Regions from separate parts of the Homo sapiens genome. Here regions 2, 3 and 4 are each linked to region 1. Evidence: fine-mapped expression QTL. A gene starts in region 1. Each other region holds a variant in brackets. All regions are shown on one strand. Distances are between the middles of the regions.

Region 1 (6,323 bases):
CTAGGGAGTTTGGACTATATCCTGTAAGATAGGGGATAAAAATCAACTTTAAACAGGAGTGATATAACAAGATAATGTACTTTAGAAAATAATTCTGTAACTGTAGGGGGAGTCCCAAAGTGTTTCTCAAATTGTGTTCGGGGAAGTTCAAAGTGTGTTTGAGAGCTTGTTTTTATATGCAGATTCTTGCCCCTCACCAGACCTGCAAATAAAGTTCTCTGGTTGTACAGCCAGGAAACTGCATTAAAAAAAAACTTTTTAGGTTAACATACATTTGGTGAGAAAACGCATAAACCATATGGATAGGGCTCTGAATTTTCACAAGCAAACACTTCAGCCAGGCGGGGTGGCCCGTGCCCCTAATCCCAGCTACTCGGGAGGCTTAGGCAGGAGAATGGCTTGAGGCCAGGAGTACCAGATCAGCCTGGGCAACATAGCAAGACCCGTCTCTAAAAAAATTTAAAACAAAAATAATAACACACTCCCGTAGTTAACACCAGATGAAGAAACAACATGGCCAGCAGCTCAGAAGCTCCCCTTTTCCCCTTTAGCCACTGCTGCCTGCACCAAAGGTAAATATGATCATTACTTATAAGAACTGTAGATTAGTTTTGCCTGTTTTGAATTTGATATAAATAAAAGCATACAGGATATATTGTGTCAGCTTATTTGTTAGTGTTATTTATGAAATTCATCCGCATTGTTCCATGTAGTTGCTGTAGACTCCGTTGCTATAGATTGTTATCACAATTTATCCAGTCTCTTGTTTATGGGCCTTTGGGTAATTTCCAGTTTGGAGATAGTAGCAAAAAAAATGCTAAAATGAACATTCTTCTTCATTCATATCTTTTGCTTTGTAAATTATAAAGCAAGACAACAAGACCTAAAGACTGATTCATTCACTACCTATTTATTGAGCCCCTTACCAGACTAAGGTGAGAAAATAAAACAGAAAAGACAGCAAAGGTCCTGCCCTCATGGAACTTATTCTAACTGGAACGAAACAACACCTACGTGGGCAGCAAAACAAGTCAAACAATTGCAATTGTGATAACTCTGAGGGAAACAAGGTGAGCTAGAAAAAGAAGGGTGGGGACTTAACCTTTTTTTATGTGGTAGCCTGGTTAACTCTCAGAAAAATATCTAGGAAAAAATACAAGAGATAAGTTGGCACTGCTACACGATGAGTATTAACAATGGGTAGACCATTCCTGGCAAGAGAGACACCATGTATAAAGGTCATGGAGGAGGAGAGAGCTTGGCCCATTCAAGACCAGTGTGGCTTCAACACAATGAAGGAGGGATGGCATAAGGTGTATCTGGGTATTAAAGCATATGATACAAGGCCAGAGTAAGAAGTTGAGATTTTATTCCAAATATTATGAAAAGCAATCGAACTGTTAAAAACAGGAAATAATGTGATCTGATTTACTTACTTAAAAGATCCCTCTAACTGCTGAGCAGAGAACAGATTAAAGACAGAATTTAGGAGGCTGCTAGAGCAGTCTCAGGGAAGATATGCTGGCATAGAGCTTAGAGGAAAGGCTTGAAATACATCTGGGAACTGTCATGGCAAAGATCATCACCTTAATCAAGTGATAAAAGGTAACACCTCTCTGCACTGGCCTGGGTAAAAATCTAAAGAATAAAATACCACCACAATATTGGGAACCCATGTGTGGTGGTGTATTCCTGTAGTCCCAACTATTCTGGAGGCTGAAGCAGAACTGCTTGAGCCCATGAGTTCAAGGCTGTAGCAGGCTACAATCAGACCTGTGAATAGCTACTGCACTCCAGCCTGGGCAACACAGCCAGACCCCATCTCTTCGAAAAAATGTATATGTGTGTGGCCAAGCACAGTGGCTCACGTTTGTAATCCTAGCACTTCTGGGAGGCTGAGGCAAGTGAATCACAAGGTCAGGAGTTCAAGACTAGCCTGGCCAAAATGGTGAAACCCTGTCTCTACTTAAAACACAAAAATTAGCCGGGCGTGGTGGCAGGCACCTGTAATCCCAGGTACTTGGGAGGATGAGGCAGAGAACTGCTTGAACCCGGGAGGCAGAGAACTGCTTGAACCTGGGAGGCAGAGGTGGCAGTGAGCCGAGATCGCACCACTGCACTCCAGCCTGGGTGACAGAGGGAGAGTCCATCTCAAAAAAAGAAAGAAAAAAAAAAGTGTTTGTGTGTGCGTATATATATAGAGAGAGAGAGAGTGAAGAGAGAGAGAATGTATTCTGATGTGATGCACCAAGGACATAGCATTTCTACCAAAAATTCACTATCTGAATCCAATGAGGAAAACTCCAACAAACCCATGTTACAAATTTAACAGTTAAATCTAAAACTATCAGTTAAAGACTAGAGACCTGATAAATAATTGCAATTTGTAATCCTCCATTAGATCAAGAGCCTGGAAAAACAATTTTTTTTCCCATTTGCTCCAAGGAACATAGGAGCAACAACTTATAAATTTGAATAAGGACTGAAGGTTAGATAATAGTACTATTGCAATATCAATTTCCTGATTTTGATAAGTGTACTGATGACATAAGAGAATCTCTCTGTTGTTAGGAAATACACATTTTAAGAACGTATAGATAGGCTGGGCATGGTGGCTCACGCCGGTAATCCCAACACTTTGGAAGGCCGAGACGAGAGGATCGTCTTCACTCAGAAGTTAGAGGCTGCAGGGAACCATGATCGCGCCACTGCACTCCAGCCTGAGCGACTGAGGGAGACCCTGTCTCTATAAAAGAATGTAACGCCAGGCACGGCGGCTCACGCCTGTAATCCCAGCACTTTAGGAAGCTGAGGGAGGCAGATCACGAGGTCAGGAGTTCGAGACCAGCCTGGCCAACATAGTGAAACCCTGTCTCTACTAAAAATGCAAAAAAATTAGCCGGCCATGGTGGCGCGCGCCTGTAGTCCCGGCTACTTGGGAGGCTGAGGCTGGAGAATCACTTGAACCCGGGAGGCGGAGGTTGCGGTGAGCCAAGCCCCCGCCACTGCACTCCAACCTGGGCAACAGACCGAGACTCCGTCTTTAAAAAAAAAAAAATGTAGCGATAGAAGGACATCATGTCGGCAATTTCCTTTCAAATGATATAGCACATGCAAAACGTTAACATTTGTGGAATCTAGAAGGGTTTGTGGGAATTATTTGTACTAGTTTAGCAATATTTCTGTAACTGTGAATTACTTGAAAATGAAAGGTTAACAAAGTTACTGAGATTAGGAGAGAACGTGAGGAGCGAACAGACCTAGCCATGAATAACCAACAAATAAAACTCGAGGAAATAAAAAGGAACTCAAATGGCATGCGACCAACGGAAGACATAGCTTCTGTACTCTTAACCCTAAATTACTAAGCGATGACCCTCCTGCAGCTTTCTAATCCAAATCACCAAAAACAATCTCGCCGCCCAACTTTGCCAAAAAGCAACTTAACGCCAGCCGACTCCGCCATGTTTTCCCAGTGAGCTTGCGAGCGCGTGCGTACGCACGCACGCACGCACGCACCAACCAATCGGTGCTCACGTCGGTGACTCGTTACCGCAGGGGCGGTGCGTTCTTCTACACATGCGCAGGGTTGGGCGGGTCTTCTTCCTTCTCGCCTAACGCCGCCAACATGGTGAGTCTTACTGTTGCGGGCTCCGGGGCCGTCGACCATGCCGCTCGACCTCCACCTCCGCTGGGAAGCTGAGGCGCCAAACGGCTCCCAGAGGGTCCCGGGAAGCGCATGGTGAGGGTCCCCGGGCCGGCTGTGCAGCGGAATCGGGCCCTTCCCGGACTCGCGCCCTTCCCGGACTCGCCGCTGGCGAGCGCGTGGAGGGCCCGGCAGGCCTGGCGCGCCTTGGGCCACGCGTGCGCGCCTCCGCCGCTGGAGCTGGATGGCTGATGCGGCTCGTGGTCCGAGAGCCTTGTCCTGCCGTGTGGGCCTTGCGGACCTGGGAGCTGGCGGGCGTTGGGAACCGGGCTTAAGCTACTGAGGCGTTTGCTGATTTCGTCCATCCAGGTTGGCGCCTGGCTCTCGGGCGTTTGTTCCCTGCAGCATTCTTTTTCGCTGAATTTAACCATGTTGTCTTTAGCTGCAGAAGGTGACATATGTAGCGAGTATTTCTAAGTAAGTTTCACTGTCCTTTCTCCTCCAATTTTAGGTGTTCAGGCGCTTCGTGGAGGTTGGCCGGGTGGCCTATGTCTCCTTTGGACCTCATGCCGGAAAATTGGTCGCGATTGTAGATGTTATTGATCAGAACAGGGTAAGTGTCACAACTTTTTACTAAACATGGCAGTGGACATGTGCCCTGCAGATGGCAATAATGAATTGTCTCGATGGCTGTGTAAGATGAGGATGCTATGGGTAGTCGCTTTATTTTACCATTGAGGAAACAGGTAATGGTACGGGTTTTAAGCACAGCCTGAAGTTAGCTATTAGTATTGAATTTCAGTATTAGCCACTTAAGCTAGAGCCAGTTATAGGCTGAAACGTTGGTTAGTTTTAAATGAGTTACTATACGTAAAGTGAGTTTAGAACAGATCCAGCACGTAGAAAGCACTTTTGTATTTACTGCTGTGTATTTGAAACAAGCAAACTAAGGAGTTGACCACTGACTATAAATCAGCAGGGATCAGAGTCCTAAAGTTGCCTGTAAATTACATGTGGTTGGTTTCTATGGGGTACTATATAGTTTAAGAAGGAGCATTTAATGATGTGGAGAAATGTTTGTGTTGAGCAAAAGACATACATATATATAACCCAGATAGGACAATCCTTGTCTTTTCTGAGCAATTTATTAAAATAGTAGTGTGGGTTTGATGGCCCTGAACGGATAAGTAATGTTACAGAACCATCTGACCATTTTAATTGCTGTTAGATTTTGCACTGAAGTTCTTGATGTTTGTGTTCTAGGCTTTGGTCGATGGACCTTGCACTCAAGTGAGGAGACAGGCCATGCCTTTCAAGTGCATGCAGCTCACTGATTTCATCCTCAAGTTTCCGCACAGGTAACTGTCCACTAATCACTCCTCCCTCCCATCCCCAGATTTGTTTATGCTAGTAAAAGTTTGTTTTGGAGTAAACAATACGGAAGATTCAGAGCCATCCTGAAGAGGGATTTGCATCATAGAAGTAGACAGGGATTATTTACTTTTAAAATGTCTTGCCTGCGCGTGATAGCTCATGCCTGTAATCCCAGTACTTTGGGAGGCCACGGTGGGAGGGTCTCTTGAGCCCAAGTTTCAAGACCAGCATGGGCAACATGGCGAAAACCCCCATCTCTACAAAAAATAAAAAAAAAATTCGTTGGGCATGGTGGCACGCGCCTGTAATCCCAGGTAGGGGGGCCTTGGGGGTGCTGAGTTGGGAGGATCGTTTTAGCGAGGTCGAGGCTGCAGAGAGCCGTGATCATGCCACTGCACTCCAGCCTGGATGACAGAGTGAGACCCTGTCTCAAAAATAAATAAATAAAATAAATGCCTTGAGGTCACTTTTCTATCCTGGTAGTTTAGGGCTTTGCCTTTGTTTAGATTTGCCATCTTCTTTTCTTCTGGTTTCTGCCAAATTTTTAGCTTAAAGTAAACAACAATACTAAGTCTTGTGTTTATTGCTACTAGCTATCATTAGATAAGCTCTCAGTGTGTGTCAGTTACACAGTATTTAATATAAGAGGTTTTATCCCTAGCTTACATTTAAGTGAGGCAGTGAATAGCAGTTCTTTTTTGACATGAAAATTAAAACACTTTAGTGTGTTGCTATACAGTTAATTCAACCCACAATGATGGTTGCAGTGGAACATGTAATTTTGCATGCTTTAAAAAATAGTCAAAAACTTGCTGTATGTTGGCCGGGCGCGGTGGCTCACGCCTATAATCCCAGCACTTTGGAAGGCCGAGGCGGGTGGATCACGAGGTCAGGAGATGGAGACCGTCCTGGCTAACACGGTGAAACCCCGTCTCTACTAAAAATACAAAAAAAAAATATTCCGGGCATGGTGGCGGACACCTGTAGTCCCAGCTACTTCAGAGGCTGAGGCAGGAGAATGGCGTGAGCCCGGGAGGCGGAGCTTGCAGTGAGCCGAGATCGCAACACTGCACTCCAGCCTGGGTGACAGAGCGAGACTCCGTTTCAAAAAAAAAAAAAAAAAAAAAACTTACTGTATGCTGAGCACTACAGGCACTGTGGGACGTGTATTAACACATAATGGATTTTGAAGTACTGGTAGTTGAAAACATGCCACTTGAACAACCTCGAGTGAACATAGCCATGCTGCTACTACTGTGACATACCAATTAGGGGTGAAGCTTGAGGATACTTGTCAAAGTTC
Region 2 (6,323 bases), 130 kb before region 1:
CTGTCAATAAAGTATCATTTATTGGCTCCCTTCCCTTCCCTTCTCTGTCTCATTTTCCCATACCTCCACCTATGCTTTCTGAGATCACCTCCCAAATAAACTACCAGCACTTACATCCTTATCATAGCCTTCTGGAGGAACCCAACTTAAGATACCTTTGTACCTCCCAATCCAGTTTAGATCGGGGTATGAAATACAATAGGTGCTCAATAAATATTTGTTGAACAAATGAGTAAATCTCCCTCCCTGTGACCACCACTCACCCTTTGGGAAATTCCAGACTTATCTATTATACGTAACGTATCTGTGGGTCATTTTCCATTTTGAAGATATTTGGAGCCTGTGTATCTGAGGTGGGAAGAGAATAGATATTTGTAATAGGATTGCTTGAACATAATTATTTCTGGTAAGCCCTTTCCTTACTCTTTATTTCATGCTTCTCCCCTGGAGTAGGGGAAGAAGAAGGGAATTCAGTTCCAGGAGAAAGGAAGCTGGAAAAATGAATGCCTGGAAGGGACATATTCTACCAGGGCCTTGGAAAGACTTGGGTTCTAGGCCCCTTTGCCCTTTGCTGATATTTTCCTAGTGGCCTAGCTTGCCCAGATGCTGGCTGAGACTTAGTTATCTTCTTATCACATCATTCTACATATGCAAGAAGTATCCATGGGGAAAAGGATGGATTATTTAGTTGAAGGTGTTAGGAAATTTGGCTCAATAAAGAAAAAGCTGGGTCCCTACTCCATACCACAAACACTAATGGATTACAATGGATTAAAGACCTAATTGTGAAAGGCAAAACTATATAGGTTATCAAAGAAACCCAGAAAGATATGTTGTGACTGGGACAAAAAATAAGGTTAATTGGTCAAATAAGCTGGGTGCAGTGGCTCACACCTGTAATCCCAGTACTTTGTAAGGCAGAGGCAAGAAGATGGCTTATAGCCAGGAGTTCTAGGCCAGCCTGGGCAACAAAGCAAGACCTCGTCTCTATAAAAAAATTTAAAAATTAGCCAAGCATAGTGACACACACCTGTAGTCCCAGCTATGGGGAAGCTGAGGCAGGAGGATTACTTGAGCCCAGGGGTTTGAAACTGCAGTAAGCTATTATCACACCACTACACTCCAGCCTGGGTGACAGAGTGAGACCCTGTCTCTGAAAAAATAATATGGTAAAATATACATAACATAAAATTTATCATCTTGACTTTTTTATTGCATATCACTCCTTTGTTATACTAAACTAGAAAAAAATGTAGTACAGTTATTCTGAAAAAGAATGCTGGGACCATGTGACAGGGCAAAGCAAGTAGAACACGATTAAGAAATCAGGCACAGTGAAAGACACATTTGGACATGCTCAAGGGGCATTTCACTGCCACAAAACAAGGCAGGGGAGGGATTCTAAAATATACAGCAGAATGCACTTCTACCCTTAGAAGTCAAAAGGCGTATCCCATGTTGGTGTGAGGATTGGCTTACTTTCTGATGACCATACATGGGACTAACTATTTCAACTGCCACTAGAAACCCCAAAGTGGTTGTGTGTATGTGTATGTGTGTGTGTGTGTGTGTGTGTGTATGTATATAATATATATGTATATATATAGTGTGTATATACATACACATACACACAAATATATGCACACACATACATATATAGACAAAATTTAAGTTTCTGTGTTGAATTATGTGTTAAGTTTGTGTTGCATTTACTTTTACAAACATATATGTACACATATGTGTTGCAATTATATATAATATCTGTATTTTATATAGATAAAAATTATATATATTATATCTATATTTTATATATAGATATTATATATATAAATATGTGTGAATGCAACACATAAACTTAATTGAAGATTGATCCCAACCTTCTAAAGCCAGCTTCTGTGGTGTCAGGGAGGAAATAGTTGATTTTTTTTAACATTACTATGTAGGTTACATTTATCTTCCACTGAAATGACTAACCCCACCGCCCAAGTCAGTGACCTAACCACAGAAGGGCACAGGACTGGCTCCTGGGGTCAAATAGGCACTCTTGCTTCATTGCTTCTTGCTTCTTCATTGGTCATGCCTTAGCATGGTTCCTCCCTCTCCCCTTCTCAAGCTGGTCCCTAGTAAACATAGCCCTGGCAAAACCTAGAGTTACTACCACTGAACTCTCTTGGCTAAGAGAAGCCTTCCCTCAGTGTGGACTGAGAACCCATGCCCCAGAGACGCTATTCCAATCCAGCTGTATGAAGGGAGTGGGTGTAGGAGATACAATGGCTGAAAGGAAAATGGAAGCCACTGGTCCCCCATCTGCAGCTACAACTTAAGATGACTACGGCTGGGCACGGTGGCTCACAGCTGTAATCTCAGCACTTTGGGAGGCTGAGATGGGTGGATCACATGAGGTCAGGAGTTTGAGACCAGTCTGGCCAACATGGTGAAACTTCATCTCTACTAAAAATACAAAAATTAGCTAGGCATGGTGGCATATTCCTACTGTCCCAGCTACTCGGGAAACTGAAGCGGGAGGATCACTTGAACCTCAGAGGTGGAGGTTGCAGTCAGCTGAGATTGTGACACTGCACTCCAGCCTGGCTGACAAAGCGAGACCCCGTCT[CAA/C]AAAAAAAAAAAAAAAAATGACTATGGTCAGTGTGACATATGCAGAAGTGCAGAGGAAGGGATGGGCAGAGAGGGCATTCCTTGGGACAGTAATCTATCTGCTGGCCTTTATTTCTTGACCTTGCTCCCAATAGCCATAGCTTCCATGGCTTTATGCACAGTCTCTTCATCCCCCCCCGGGAACTACATGGGCTTGGTGGGCTTCAAGTTCTTGTCCAATCTATAGACAATGGGAATACCAGCTGGCAGGTCCAGCTGCATGAAGCCTCTTCAGAGACACCCTCCAGATGCTCAACAATGCCCCGAAAACTGTTGCCATCAGCTGCAATCAGCACCCATTTCCCCTCCTTGATCTAGGAGACTATCTCTTCTTTCTAAAAGGGCAGAGCTATGGCAGTAGTGTCCTTCAGACTTTCACAGGAGGGTAGCTGATCATTCTCACTGGTGTTGCCTTAGACGGGATGGTTGGGCTCCATCAGAGGTGATGAGACATCATAGGAGCACTTCCAGATCTTTACCAAGGCCTCCTCATGCTTGGCAGCAGCTTCTGCTTTATTAAGGCCAATTAGAACCCCATAGTGGCACTCGTTCCAAGTCCTCATTACAGGCATCCACATCTGGTCAATGGCATCCAGCACTGTGCAGATGGTCCAGATGGCTTTTTCTTCCACTGTCCAAGCCACCACGCCTCACAGAAAAGTATCAGGCTGATCAACCCAGATCCATCTAGGCCACTGCCACAAGGTCTTTTTAAACAGCTTTATTGAGATATAATTCACCTAGCAAAAAATTCAGCTATTTAAAGTGTACAGTCCAGTGTGGTTTTAGTATATTCCTAAAGTTGTACAACATCATTACAATCAGTTGTGGAATATTTTCATCACCCCCCAAAGAAACGTTGTACCCATTAGCAGTCATTCCTCATTCACGTGTTTTCTTCTAGGAATGTAGTTTTAGGTCTTACATTTAAGTCTTTGGTCCAGTCTCAATTAACTTTTGTGTATTGGTATAAGGTAGGAATCCAAATTCATGCTTGTACATGTAGATAACCAGTTATTCCAGCACCATTTGTTAAAAACACTAGTCTTTCGCCCATTGGATCATCCTGGCACCCTTATTGAAAATCAATTGGCCGTAGATGAGAGTTTATTTCTGGACTTGCAATTCTATTTCATTGATCTGTTTATGTATCTTTATGCCAAAACCACACTGTCTTAATTACTGCAACTTTGTAGTGAGTTTGAAATTGGGAATGTGAGTCCTCTAACTGTTCTTTTCCAAGATTGTTTTGGCTTGTCCATGTCTCTTCCAGTTCAGCTAGTTACAAAGTATCATTTTGCCTCTCATCTGAGGCTGTGTCCTGTACATAGGTTTTTCTCAGGAACCTTGTCGGGAGGTCTTGAATCAGGAGTGACTGAATGCCCTAGCCATCTTCCCAGCTCATGGTATCCCAATCTCATCTTTATACCAACGCTATAAACTACCTAGCCCAACTATGTCACTCAACCTGGCTCCTAAAATCCCAGCCTGAGCCAGAGTCCTTCTCCCCAAATGCCTGAGGGCAGAGCAGCTCCACGATAAAACCCAAGTAAGCTCCCCGGGTGTTTGCAGTCTCACAATGATTGGGTTTTCCTCTGCTAGGAAAAGAGAGAGAATTTAAAAATATGTAAACGTAAACAACATTTATTTTGAAAATGTTTTCTTTTTCTTGTTTTTCTTGCTATGGGTTTCTATTAAATCTAAATTAGTATAAGAATCCTAGAAGAAAGCCTAGGAAATACCACGCTGGACATGGGCCTTAGGAAAGAATTTATGACAAAGTCCTCAAAAGCAATTGCAACAACAAAAAAAATTGACAAATGAGAGGTAAAGAGCTTCTGCACAGCAGAGGAAACTGTTAGCAGAGTAAACAGACAAGACAACCTACAGAATGGAAGAAAATATTTGCAAACTATGCACCCAGCAAAGGTCTAATATCCAGAATCTATAAGAAACTTAAATAATTAAACACGCAAAAAACAACAACAACAAAGAACTGCATTAAAAAATGGGCAAAAGACATGAGAAGACACTTTTCAAAAGAAGACATACAAGTGGCCAACAAACATGACAAAATGCTCAACGTCACTAATCATAAGAGAAATGCAAATCAAAACCACAATGAGATACCATCCCACCGCAGTCACAATGGCCATTATTAAAAAGTCAAAAAACAGCAGATGTTGGTGAGGCTGTGGAGAAACGGGAACACTTATAATACTGTTGGTGGGAATGTAAATTAGTTTAACTACTGTGGAAAGCAGTTTGGAGATTTAAAACAGAACTACCATTTGACTCAGCAATCCCATTACTGTATGTTCATTCAAAAGCAAGCAAATCATTCTACCGAAAAGACACATACACTCACATGTTCACTGCAGCACTATTCACAATAGCAAAGTCATGGAATCAACCTAGGTGCCCATCAACAGTGGATTGGATAAAGAAAATGTGGCATATATACACCATGGAATACTATGGAGCCATATAAAAGAATGAAATCATGTCCTTTGCAACAACATGGATGCAGCTGGAGGCCATTATCCTAAGAAAATTAAAGCAGGAACAGAAAACCAAATACCACATGTTCTCACTTATAAGTGGGAGCTAAACATCAGGTACTCATGGCATAACGATGGCAGCAATAGACACTGGGGACTACTAGAGTAGGGAGGAAGGGAGAAGGGCAAGGGTCAAAAAACTAACTGTTGGGTACTGTGCTCAGCACCTGAGTGACAGAATTATTTGTACCCCAAACTTCAGCATCACACAGTATACCCAGGTCACAAACCTGCACTTGTACCCCCTGAATCCAAAATAAAAGTTGAATAGGAAAAAATAAAATAAAATAAAGTTCTGTAATGATACTTTAACACAAACTTTTTCTGTAAATATTAATAGTAAATATTTTAGGCTCACAGGTTGTATGATCTCTGCTGCAAATACTCAACTCTGCCATTGAAGCAAGAAACTGCCATAGAGTATATAAATGAATGAATGTGGCTGTGTTCCAATAAAACTTTATTTATAGACACTAAAATTGCAATTTTATATAATTTTCAGATGTCACAAAATACTATTCACCTTTTGATTTTTTTTCACTAACCATTTTTAAATGGGGGATAATTCCTTTCTTAACTATAGTTAACTATACTTTTTGGACCACATGAAAACAATAGGTAGGACAGAATTTAGTCTGAGATCCACAGTTTTCTGACCCTGGATTTAATGTGACACAGGAATCATGGCACTTGAAGGAACCACACACTGAACCAAGAACTTTTGATTAAGCAGCTCATTCCAATTAAAATAGTATTTGCAGCACCACAGTTGGCCTCAGGTTTTAACCTGAAGCCCCTAAAAGTAGGTTAGCCCAGTAACAGTGGATAAAAGCCTATTTAGAGAGACATTTCCAAAGCATGCCAGAGAGAGACCTGAGTTAGAGGCCACTTGGCCTTAAGGTCCTTGGATATTTTCCCCAGGTGGTCAGGGCCATGTTAGTACCTGTGTCCGAGGACCGAAATTGCCTCCATGGATTCCAGAGTTGCAACACACATCCTTGTTCAATTTAGAGAGGGAGAGAAAAAAATAAAACATCATTCAGAATTGCCTTTTTGACACAGGCAGTGTTGGTGTCATGAGGACTTTTTGCTAAAAGGCCTAGATTC
Region 3 (6,323 bases), 49 kb before region 1:
GCTGCCTTTCCCCACAAGGGACATTCATAATGTCTTTCCTTTAAACCAGTGACTAAAAATTACTTAAGCTCCACTAGAGCCTAAACTTAACTATCTCCTCCATTAAAATCCCTCAAAGAGTTGCATCAGAAACCAGGCCACCATAGTATTAAAAAAACATCCTTTGCCTCTGGGTGCAGTGGCTCATGCCTGTAATCCCAGCACTTTGGGAGGTGAGGCGGGTGGATCACCTGAGGCAAAGAGTTTGAGACCAGCCTGGCCAACATGATGAAACTCCATCTCTACTAAGAATACAAAAATTAGCCGGGCTTGGTGGTGGGCGCCTATAATCCCAGCTTCTCGGGAGGCTGAGGCAGGAGAATTGCTTGAACCCAGAAGGCAGAAGTTGCAGTGAGTGGAAATCATGCCACTGCACTCCAGCCTGGGTGACAGAGCGAGACTTCATTTCAAAAAAAAAAAATCATTTGCCAATAGTTGGCCGGAGCTCAAGCTGAGGTGCGTGTCTTTGGCTTCTGTTTCCCCTCAAGTAAGTTTTGTGCCGTCTGTTTAACCCTCTCTCCCCATATTGAAATAGCAATTTCAGTGCTCCTCTCATGGGACCAAGTATCCAAGTCCAAGCAGCTTAGAAGCCTGTGAATCCTATCTCCTTTTCCCTCTAGAAGGCTTAATGGACCTTATGCAAACAGGCTGTCTGGTGACATACTCCCAAGGTTTCACCATTCTATCTCGCCTCTCACCAGCCGCTAACCAGAGACCAGCTCCTTGCAGATTATATTTTGTTTATCCCAGATTGGACTAGCCAATCTCCTTACTACAGAGATGTATAGTGGTTTGAAAGTCTCATTGATTGATTGATTTAATAAATATGTATTAGGTGCCTGCTGTTTGATACGAACTGTTCTTGGCACCAGGAATTCAGAAATAAACAATATATACAAAATCTGTGGTTATGTGTTATGAGACTTGCATTCCAATGAGGAAGATAGACAAAAAAATAAACGGGCATATAACGAGTGTCAGGCAGACATGATGTGAAGAGAAATCAGGCAGGGCAGGAAAAAGAGAGTGATCATGCTGTTTTGAACAGGATTGTCAGGGAAGTATGAAGAATATGACAGCTAGGCAGAGACAAAAGTGATATGAGACAATGGGCCATGTAAATGTGTGGGGGAAGAACATGCTGAGCAGAGGCATGGCAAGGGAAAAGGCCAAGCATGGAAGCTGCTCAGCATTTTCCAGGAAAAGCCAAGGGGCCAGTGTGGCTGGAAGAAAGATGAGAAATGAGACTGAAGCTAGAGCCAAGGCCTGCTCCTTGGAGGGACTTGAGGTGTCCTAAGGGTTTGACTGTGACACAAATGAAGTTTCTTCAAAGTATATTGGGAAGCCATTAGAAGATTCTAACTAGGGAACTAATACGATATGACTTCTGTTTTTAACGGATCACTCAGTTGATATAGAACACGTAGTCAGGGGCTAAGATTGGAAGCAAGGACACCAGTTAAGTGCTGTTAAATCAGTACGGGTGAGAGATTAGGTGATGGTCAATTTGCCCTTGACTAGTGCTTCTCAACACAAGGTGAATTTGTCTCCCGGGAAACATTTTGCAATGTCTGGAGATCTTTTCGATTGTCATGACTGGGTCCGTGGTGCTACTAGCATCTAGTGTATAGAAGACATTTCTCATCTTTCTTCCAGCCACACTGGCCCCTTGGCTTTTCCTAGAAAATGCTGAGCAGCTTCCACACTTGGCCTTTTCCCTTGCCATTCTACAATGTTCTAAGCATTGTACAATGCACAGAACAGCCTCCACAACAAAGAATTATCTACCCCAAAATGTCAGTAGCACCAAGGTTAAGAAACCTTGGTTTACGATGGTTCTGGGGAAGGGGGTGAGAAGTGCTTAGATTTGCGAGGTATTTTGAAGGTAGGACCAACATGATTTTATGATGGACTTGATGTGAGGCATCTGAGTTCATAATGCATGAGCAAGAGTTTGGATATGAGCAACTGTGTGCATCACAACACCATTTACTGAGATTGGGGAACACTGGGAGTGGAGCATATTGGGGGCAGGGCAAAGCTTAAAGAGTTTGGTTTTGGGCATATTAAGTTGGAGATGGCTATAAATCATCTGAGTCAGGGGAGGCAAACTTTTTCTGTAAAGAGCTACACGATAAATATTTTAGACTTGTGGGTCATATGGTCTCTGTCGTAACTGCTCAACTCTGCCCCTTTAGCATGAAAACAGCCATAGACAACAGGTAGATGAATTAGCATGTTTGCATTTCAAAAAAAAAAAACTTTACTTGTGGACACTGACATTTTAATTTCTTATAATTTTCATATGTCATGAAATGCTGTTCTTCATTTTATTTTTTTCCAACTACTTGAAAATATAAAAATTATTCTTCACTTGCAATCCATACAAAAACAGGTATGGGGTCAAATAGCTTGCTCATTCCTGATCTATACAGTGATGTGGAGTTGTCAGATAGGCAAGTCGGGAGTTCGGGGGAGGGGGAGGATGAAGAAATAAAGCTGAGTGTCATCAGAATACAGACGATATCCAGCCCCAGCTCATCTAAGGAGTGAATAGATACTGAAGAAAAGAGATCTGAGGACTTAGCCTTACACACTCCAGTACTGAGAGGTTGGGGAGAGGAAGAGGATCCAGCAAAAGAACTTAGGAGGAATGACAGCCAGTGAGGGGAGAAGAAGGTCAGAACCCAAATCCAAGGTAGTTGAAGAAAGAGGAAGTGCGCAATTAGGTGAAAAGTGATGGGGAGCTTATAATCTAAGAAGT[C/T]AGACAGACATGATATGCCCCCAGTGCGGTGATGTACACTAGGAAAAACCTAGCACACCTAGGAAGTGCTCTTGCCAAAAAATCAAATCTGAATCTGATCACATTTCTAGAAATTAACTCCCAGTTTATAAAAAACACAGAAGACAAAGGAACATGTTCAAGGACACCTCACGGATCCAATCAGCGAAATCCAAAATAAGAGACCTACTCCATTAAAATGATTTCTTTAATAAATAAATGGCAAGATAAAAGGGGGGCAGGAAAACTGTTACAGAATGAGAATCTTAAAAAACATCCAAATGCACATACAAGGTATGGACTTTGGTTTCTGCATCACACTATAAAGAAAAAGTTATTCTGGGAAATTTGAACACTGACAGGTCTTTAATAATATTAAGAACTTTTTTAGGAGTGATTTTTTTCTTAGGTATCATGGTTATATTTTTCAGAGTTCTTCCCTCTTAAAAACATATACTAAAGTGTTTGTAGATGAATTAACATAATGCCTGGGATTTTCTTTACAATAATTCCTAGAGATGGAAAAAAGAAAGCATATAAATGAAAATAAGATGGGCTGTGTATTGATTAACTGTTGAAGCTGAATGATCAGTATATGGGGATTCATTTCACTAGTTTCACAGTAAAGAATTAAGACTAATGTGAGCACTGACCTGTGATGTTCAGCATAGTTTTGTTGTTTTTGTTGGCTTTATTGGCATTTTGGAGAGAAAAACCTGTTAACTAACCTATCTCATAGGAATATGCCTGAGAGCTTAATCTCACATTTTATTTACTGAGAGAATTGTGTGTCTTTTTAAAAATAACTTTCTAATTACAAAATAATATATTTTCATTGTGTGAAAATCAGAAAACACAGGTAAATAAAATGGAACCAGGCACAATGGTGTGCACCTATATTCCCAGCTACTCAGGAGGCTAAGGCAGAAGGATCACTTGAGCCTAGGAGTTTGAGACCAGCCTGGGCAACATAGCAAGACCCCATCTTTATTTAAAAGTAGAAAAGGAAGTAAGATCATCCATAATCCTTCCCACCAGAGGGGAACATTTTTCTTTTTTTAGGATTAATATATTTTTATATTAAAAATTATTCATACAGGCTGGGTGCAGTGGCTCACTCCTGTAATCCCAGCACTTTGGGAGGCCAAGTGGATCAGCTGAAGTCAGGAGTTTGAGACCAGCCTGGCCAACATGGTGAAACCCCATCTCTACTAAAAATACAAAATTAGCCGGGTCTGTTGGTGCATACCTGTAGTCCCAGCTACTCGGGAGGCTGAGGCAGGAGAATCACTTGAACCTGGGAGGCGGAGGCTGTAGTGAGCCGAGATCATGCCATTGCACTCCAGCCTGGACAACAAGAGCAAAAACTCCGTCTAAAAAAAAAATTATATATACATACGTATATAAACATATATATTTATTTAATTGTTGTTATTGTTATTAGTGTTTCTTACAGCTACTTCAGTTCTGAACTCCTGAGATCAAGCCACTGAGTTCATCAAGCCCACGGCTTATGGTGCTGTCATTTGTCTGTTGTAGGAGGTCATTGCCCCAGGAGGGAAAATTACATTAGAGGCTCTGTCCTTGGCCAAGGTTGAGAAAGCCTGTCCTTGCTTCTCTAGCACTGTCGATGAAATCCACGTCTGTGCATCTTAATGGACACATCCAAGCAAAACTTGTAATTACAATGCTCAGGTTTTTTTATTGGTTTGTGGTAGTTGGAAGATGGGTGGGAAAGGTTAAGAAAGGGCAGCTGAAGGAGGCAGTGGCTCTATCAATTCCAAAGAAGGAAGTTTCCAGAGGGACCATATTCTCTCCATCTTCCTTGTCTGTCCTATACTTTGTCTTCCTTAAAGTAGACTTATTTAAACTCAGAGCCTGGACTGGGAGAACAAATTAAGTTATGTTCATGCAATGGCATGCAATGCAACTGTAAAAAGAAATGAAGAATATTTATATACTGCTATGGAGTGGCCACTAGGAAGTATTGTTGAATGCAAAGAAAAAAAAAGTGGAGAAAAGTATATATAGTAAATTACCATTTATCTAAAAGTTGGGGTGATTAAAAATATATATTTGCTTATTTTAAACAAACATTGGTTAAACTTTTTTTAAAAAAGAAACTACTTACAGGAAGAGGAGACAAGGAGAGAATCTAGATGTCTCTGAATATACCTAGTTTTGTAGATCTAATTTTAGAACTACTTAATTATTTTAGTAACTATAAAACAAAATCGTTTTTTAAAAAGTAATTCCTAAAACTCAAAAGTAAAATGCAACAGGCCAGTCATGGTGTCTCACACCTGTAATCCCAGCACTTTGGGAGGCTGAAGCGGGTGGATCACTTGAGGCCAGGAGTTCGAGACCAGCCTGGCCAACATGGCAAAACTCTGTCTCTACAAAAAATACAAAAATTAGCCAGGCACGGTGGCACGTGCCTGTAATCCCAGCTACTTCGGAGGCTGAGGCACAAGAATCGCTTGAATCTGGCAGACAGAGGTTGTAGTGAGCCGAGATCACACCAACTGCACTGCAGTCTGGGTGACACAGTGAGACTCCATCTCAGAAAAAAAAAAAAAAAGAGAAAAAGATATCACTATTTGCAACCCCTAATGAAATAATGGAGCTAAACCATTATCATTGATGATAACAGCACAAAAAGAGAAACAACCAGATACTGTGCCTCCTATTGTAAGTCCACACTAATCCCTATATATTTTTTTTAAATTTCAAACCTGATCTGATCAAGCCTCTACATTCAGTTAACCATTTATAGAAATACAAGGGACCAAGTAAGATGTTAATTGAACTATGAGGGTACAATCGACAAACTCTAGACTGTGGAAATTCTTCAGGACGAAGAAATTGCAAGTAAAATTTTTAATAATTAGGAGAAAAATAGAAAGGGAAGGCAGAACTAATAGACAGAAAGAGACTTAAGATTGCACTGTACCGAATTTATTGGGATCCTGACTCATACAAATGAGAAGAGGGTGATGGATGAAGGAAGAAGGAGGGATGAAGAGGAGGAGTAGGAAGAGAAAGAGACACAGAGGATGAGAATGAGAACGAATATGGAGGCAATGGGAACCATGACTGGATAGTTAATGATATTAAGAAATTATTTTTTTGGCAAGGCATGGTGGCTCATGCCTGTAATCCCAGCACTGTGGGAGGTCGAGGCAGGTGGATCACCTGAGGTCAGGAGTTCGAGACCAGCCTGGACAACATGGTGAAACCGTGTCTCTATAAAAAAACCAAAAATTAGCCAGGCGTGGTGGTGCACGCCTGTAATTCCAGCTACTCATGAAACTGAGGCAGGAGAATCACTTGAACCTGGGAGGTGGAGGTTGTAGTGAGCCGAGATCGTGCCACTGTACTCCAGGCTGGGCGACAGAACAAGACTCTGTCTCAGAAAAAAAAAAAAAGAAAAAAAGAAAAGAAAAAGAAATTATTTTTAATTTGTACAGGTATAATAATTCAACTGTAGTTAGGGCTTTTT
Region 4 (6,323 bases), 120 kb before region 1:
TGCACCTTTGCCTGCAGAACTCCATGGAGTGCGTGCTTCTTAGCCCAAGGCCCCAGGGAAGTTTCTCCCAAGCCCAGTTTCTGGATGAATACACATGAAATGGTGAGGTGGCTGAGTCCACTCTGGAAGACCGGGCCTCCTTGCGTGGTTGAGAGGAGAACATCAGAGACAGGGACCATGCTCAAATGCACCAGCTTTTAATAACTGGGTTTGGTACCATGGCTTGTCACCCCACTCCACCCCAACCACCAGAATAAAAACGTATTATTAGACTCTAGCAGAGGCCGACTCACCCTGAAACAAACACACTGGGACTTTCTGGTGCCTCGCCTGTCCAGGCCTCCTCCTTGCCCCTGAGCCTAGTATTGCATTCATTCATATGCTTTTATTCCTTTCTTAAAGGGGGTCTCTAAAACTGCATAAGTCTCAGGTCCCAGCAGACTGGGATGTTCTTGCTTTCAGAAATTTGAGATGGGAAATAAGAAAATAATCCAGCCGTTGGTGGTAGGAGCTGCAGCTGTCTGAAAGGAGGGATCATGAGGGACCCTGAGGAGAGCAGAGCAATGAGCACGCCAGAGATTTGTTTCAGCTGGCCTTGTGAGAGCACTAGGCCTGGAGAGTGAAAAGGAAGATGCAAGTGCCGGCAGAGCTGCGGTGTTGCGGGGAGGAGTGAATGAGTGAGTGTGATGATGCATGACTGCCTGAGCTTGCACTCTGCACAGTGAGTGCTTGCTGAACTTCGTCGGTATAGTTATTGTTAGCACTGCTGATATTACTGTGAAGGTCCGCGCACTCCATTTCCTGGGGTCCTTGGAGCCTGGTTCTGCTCTGGATAAAATGGTCAGGGAAGTCTAACACGCAGCTCTGAGTACACCCCCTGAAGGGGACAGAAGCTGAGAAATTGACCCTCCTCCACTTCACACGTACACCAGAATAGGGAGACCACGGGACAAAGCGCTCATTGACACCCATGAAAGTTAGGTCTGTCCCCAAGAACGCCTTTCCACCTGGTCTTTCCCAGATGGCTGCTTGAAGGGCTCAGGAGGAGGAGCCTGCAAGTCATGGTAACCGATTTGATGATGAACCTATGAGAAGCCACTCGCATTTGCTACCCCAGGCCACCCACATTGGTGTTCTTTGTTTCTACTACTAGTTTACAACATCTTTCTATTCTACTGCCAGGGAGGAAAAAAGGTGTTCCACAAAACTGCCCAAGAGGACATACCTAGGAGGAGCGTCTGACATCAGCGGGGATCTTTGTGCTGCCCTTTCAAACCCTCGCCTCACTAATTACCCAGCAGGAGACAGCCAGCTCCATCCATATTGGAGTTTCACCTTTAATTAAACTTTAATTCACTCATGCCTTATCCTTGTGGCCACATGCTGCTGGGAATCAGTGCCACAGCAACTTGGACCCAGGCCAGAACCTTGCAGAAGAACACCCAGAGGCATCACCAAGTAAAAATAGACTTTCCTGACTATTAAATCCAACACTGTACTCAGGGAACCAACAAGAGTGCTCTCAAGGAAAGCTGTGATCTGCCTATAGGCAAAGAATGGATGATTTCAGTAATTCCTCCCCTCCCCTCCCCGCCCCAACTACACAGGGAGACTCAAACAAACTAGGATTATACAATTACCCATTTAACTTCATCTCATTTCCGATAAGAAGTAATCAGGGGAAGCATAAGAAAACCAAGAACTTCCAACCACTCACATTTATGAAGTGCTAACTCCGTGCCAGGCATGATGGGGAAATGAGATGAAATCAGCTTTCTGTAGACATTGTCAGGGCCCTGCCTACTGTGCACCTGGCAGTCACCTACAGTTCCCACAGGCCCACAGCTTCCTACCCTACACATCTGCATGTCTCTGACAGGCCATTCTCTGGCTGTGGGCATGTGCGGCAAGTCAGCAGGACTGCCCGGAAGTGCCAGGGAGTTAATGCTCCAGGAGTGGTTCCAATGAGGGACAGGAGCTGGTGGACAAACACCCCAGCTTCCTCAACTATTGGTTCCACTTCTTCTCTCAGAATGTCTCTCAGAAGGTCCCCCAGGAGGGAGCCCCAGGTGACTGCCCTAGCCTCCAGCTCATTAATTCACCTTGTATTGGCTTTCATTCTTCTCTGACTCACTTCCCTTCTCTCTCACCAAGCTTTTAGGAATCACTTTTCAGATAAACTACTTGCACCCAATCCTAGTCTCAGTGTCAGCTTTTGGAGGAACACTAACGAAGACACAATTTTAGTCTTAACCTTGATGATAATGACACAAGTTAACTTTAATAAACGTGAAGGCCTAAAACTCAAATATCCATAAGCCAAAAGCCAATGTGATCAAATATCTAAGGCCAAACCCAAGTGGGGCCTAAGGGGCCCTGGAGAGCAGGTATCCTCTTTGGGAGGTAGCTACTAGTCTACTCAAGAGGCTGTTTCCATGCAAGAAGGTGGGGCCAGTATTGTTAGAGCTTCCAATTTTTAAAGAGATGCTGGAATTCTGCATTTTTATATGGACTTTCCCAATTTTTGAATGTTGAAATCAACTCAAAAATTTGAAAGCACTATGAAGCCCAAGAGAAATCCATCCATGGACAAGAGCATGCCCACAGACCCCAGTTTGTGACCTCTGGTTCCACTGGATTTAATAATCCAGCAGCCACTGTTGACCCTTCCCAGGGCAGTTTAAATTGAGTAGTGAGGCCAGAAAGCATATTGTGGAGAGCTGAGAAAAGAATTGGAAGTGAGAAAATAGAGAAAGCCAGTATAGATGATTCTTTCCAGAGCAGAGATAGAGTAGTAGATATTGAAGTGAAATAAATATTTTAATTCTTAAAGTTTGGGCACTCAAAAATACCTTTAAACCAGGAGGCAAGATCAAGGATTAAAGAACAGGATGAAGACAGTGGAGAGACAGGGAGTAACCAATTGAGTAAAGTCCCTCAGCGAAGGCAAGAACAGGCGGGCTAGCTGTGGGATTGGCCTTCAACATGAGGAAAGCCTACCATTCTCTGAAATGTGGGGCAGAAGATACATGACACACTAAGGTAAAGAATCTCTAAAGTATCCTAAGGCAGAGCAGCTCAT[T/TAA]AAAAAAAAAAAAAAAAATTTTCGGGCATGGTAGCTCACTCCCGTAATCCCAGCACTTTGGGAGGCCAAGGCAGGTGAATCATTTGAGGTCAGGAGTTCAAGACCAGCTTGGCCAACATGGTGAGACCCCATCTCTACTAAAAATATAAAAATTATCTAGGCATGATGGCACATGCCTGTAATCCCAGCTACTTGGGAGGCTGAGGCAGGAGAATGGCTTGAATCCCAGAGGCGGCGGTTGCAGTGAGCCGAGATTGCACCACTGCACTCCAGCCTGGGCAACAGAGTGAAACTCTGTCTCAAAAAAAAAAATTGACTAGGTATTTTTATTTTTATTTTATTATCTAATTATAAAATTAATATGTGTTTATTTTGGAAATGTTGGAAAATATAGAAAATAATAAAGATGAAATTAAACATTTCCTGTTATTCCACATCCTAGAAAGAACTGTTGCTGGAAAAGGGATATTGATTCCAGGCCCCAAGAGAGGGTTCTTAGATCTCACACAAGAAGGAATTCAAGGCACATCGCAGAGTGCAGTGAGAAGAGATAGTTTATTGAAAGCTACTCAGTTACAGAGTAGGGCATCCTCAGAAAGCAAGAAGAAGACTGCCTTGTCTTTTTTTTGAAGTTTTACTTATATAGGGTCTAGTCTATGTAAAAGCTAAGCTAAGGTATGTCTACATGCAGGTGGGCTGACAGCATAGCAAAATTTATTACTCTGTTTAGTTAAAGAAAACTATCCTTCTATAATCCCAGCACTTTGATAGGCCAAGGCAGGAGGATCGGTTGAGCCCAGGAGTTTGAGACCAGCCTGGGCAATATAGTGAGACCCTGTCTCTAAAAAAAGAGAAAGAAAGAAAAATAAAAAATAAAACGATCCTTGACATTTTAGTGTGCAATTACATCAAAGCATAATTATCTTGAAAGCATATATGGTCATGGGTATTGGGACATCTGGACTTTCCATTGTTGTAGGAGTGTGTCCTTGCAGGTATCTTTAAACTGTTTCCTCAATGGTGAATATCTTATGACTATGTGTCATGACCCACAAGGAATGTGTCTTGTTAGTCCCAAGAGGGAGCTGATATTAAAATTATGTTACTGTGGCTCTCCTGGGCTCCTGTTTCCCTAACAGAACCACTGTTAGTATTTGTGACTATATGTTTTTCATTCAAAGTGGGCTTATACTATACATACTGCTTTGTAAACTGACTTTTTAATTTTGTAACATATAATGGACATTTTTCCACACCATTAGATATTGTTTTAAGATATGACTAGTTACAGTCACACCGTATTTTCCAAATATACCCACATCCACATATCTGCCATCCACATGCTCTTCTTACAGTGTGACATTCACGTGCTTCCATCAAGAAGTGAGGTCTCTGTTTCCTCCCTTTGAACCTGGCCAGACTTTTGTAACTGCCACAGTCAATAGAATGTGGCATAAGTGATGCTGTGTGCCTTCCAAGGCTAGTTCATAAAGACAACATGGCTCTGTTTTTTACTTTTTGTTTTTTGCCTTTGGAACCAAACCACATTTGTGAGGAAGTCAGGTCTATATGGAAAGGCCATATGTGAATGTTCCAGCTGACTGACCCACTTGGGCCTCTAGCTCATATCAGCATCTGCCAACACGTGAGCAAACAAGTCTTCCAAGATAGCAGACTTTAGGTCTTCCACTTAAAGCCCCAGGCATTACAGAGTAGAAATAGGCCTTACTCCCTGCTGCCTAAGTTCCTGATCACAAATTCCGTGAGAGATAGTAAGTGATCATTGCTAGAGAACCAAAGCAGTATTGCATTTCATGGATATATCACAATATTGCCCTTTTGGGGGGCTTTAGATTGTCTCTAATTTTCTGCTATTATAAATAACACTGAATGAACCTCCACGTAGCTGATTCTTTGTCTAATTAACATCTCTTTCCTAAGAATAAATGTATAGATGAGCAATAATTAGGTCAAAGGATATGATCATTTTAAAGGCTTTGGAAACACATTGCTCAATTGCTTTCTAGAATTGTTGAGTCAATTTACATTCTCACAATTAGTGTATGAAAGTGTGTGAAAGCATTCAGTGAGTTATTCTTAGTCACTGGCCTCTGACGACTTTACATTTCTTTTCCTCGAACTGTCATCCCCACCCCATCTTTGTTAATTTTTGAGGCTTGTGATTCTGGAGATTGGCAACAAATTAGTGGATACCATGTTGGGAGTTGTTCAGGGCAAGGAATAGATGGAAACTGCTGGTAGTGGGCCATGGGGCCAGGCAGCTTTGCTCAGAACAGGGATCCAAGGAGGGCTATCAAGGTTGATCACACCACAAACCAGAGGCTCCTCCTACCCAGACTGGATGACGCCTGGGATAGAAGCTCCAACTGCAGCACTAAGCCCAGGAAATACACCTGTCCCTGCCGTGCTCCTTAAGAGGGTTGATAATAGACGTAGGGATACCCTTTCTTGTCATTTGTTGTTTTTGTTGAGATAAAATTCACATATCATAACATGAGCCGTTTAAAGGAAACAGTTCAGCGGCATTTAATAGTCACAATATTGTACAACCACTGCATCTATCTAGTTTCAAAACATTTCATTGCCCCAAAGGGAAACCCCATACCCATTAGGCAGTTACTCCCCATACCCTTCCTTCCAGTGCCTAGCAACCAGCAATCTGTTTTCTGTCTCTATGAATTGATCTATTCTGGGTATTTCATATAAATAGAATCATGCAATATGTGACCTTTTGTGCCTGGCTTTTGAGGTTTATCCACTTTGTGCACGTATACATCCTTCCTTTCTCCTATTATTTCTGAATAATATTCCATTATATGGATATACCACAATTTGTTTGTCCATTCATCATCATTTATGAACATTTAGGTTGTTTCTAATATTTTTTAACCAAAACATGTGTATTAGAACTTTCCCACAGATAGCCATTTTTGTCACTTTTCTGGTCAAATCTTCACAATAAGTTCTTAGACTCAATTATTATTATTATTTGAGATGGCATCTTGCTCTGTCACACAGGCTAGAGTGCAGTGGCGCAATCTCGGCTCACTGCAACCTCTGCCTCCTGGGTTCAAGCACTTCTGCCTCAGCCTCCTGAGTAGCTGGGACTACAGGTGTGTGCCACCATGGCCAGCTAATTTTTATATTTTTAGTAGAGACAGGATTTCACCATGTTGGCCAGGCTGGTCTCGAACTCCTGACCTCAGGTGATCCGTCCACC

The links.
Region 2: its variant is fine-mapped to the expression of RPL14 in whole blood (INTERVAL, PIP above 0.99).
Region 3: its variant is fine-mapped to the expression of RPL14 in aorta (GTEx, PIP 0.97).
Region 4: its variant is fine-mapped to the expression of RPL14 in monocytes (Quach 2016, PIP 0.93).

What each region holds. Positions count from the first base shown.
Region 1 is chr3:40,453,733-40,460,055 of GRCh38, forward strand. RPL14 (ribosomal protein L14) reads left to right here and starts at 3,607. Exons shown (of 6, transcript NM_001034996.3): 1 at 3,607-3,742; 2 at 4,158-4,259; 3 at 4,910-5,004. The coding sequence starts at 3,740. RefSeq lists an enhancer at 3,406-3,700 and silencers at 3,843-3,892, 5,106-5,400.
Region 2 is chr3:40,319,991-40,326,313 of GRCh38, forward strand. It overlaps the pseudogene PGAM1P3. Among named protein-coding and RNA genes, the nearest start is that of EIF1B, 13 kb to the left of the region's middle. The variant CAA/C (reference allele first, on the strand shown) is at 2,615.
Region 3 is chr3:40,405,057-40,411,379 of GRCh38, forward strand. All of the region lies in intron 4 of ENTPD3 (ectonucleoside triphosphate diphosphohydrolase 3), which reads left to right. All of the region lies in intron 2 of ENTPD3-AS1 (ENTPD3, EIF1B and MYRIP antisense RNA 1), which reads right to left. Among named protein-coding and RNA genes, the nearest start is that of ENTPD3, 21 kb to the left of the region's middle. The variant C/T (reference allele first, on the strand shown) is at 2,804.
Region 4 is chr3:40,332,203-40,338,525 of GRCh38, forward strand. No RefSeq gene overlaps it. Among named protein-coding and RNA genes, the nearest start is that of EIF1B, 26 kb to the left of the region's middle. RefSeq lists an enhancer at 5,461-5,510. The variant T/TAA (reference allele first, on the strand shown) is at 3,083.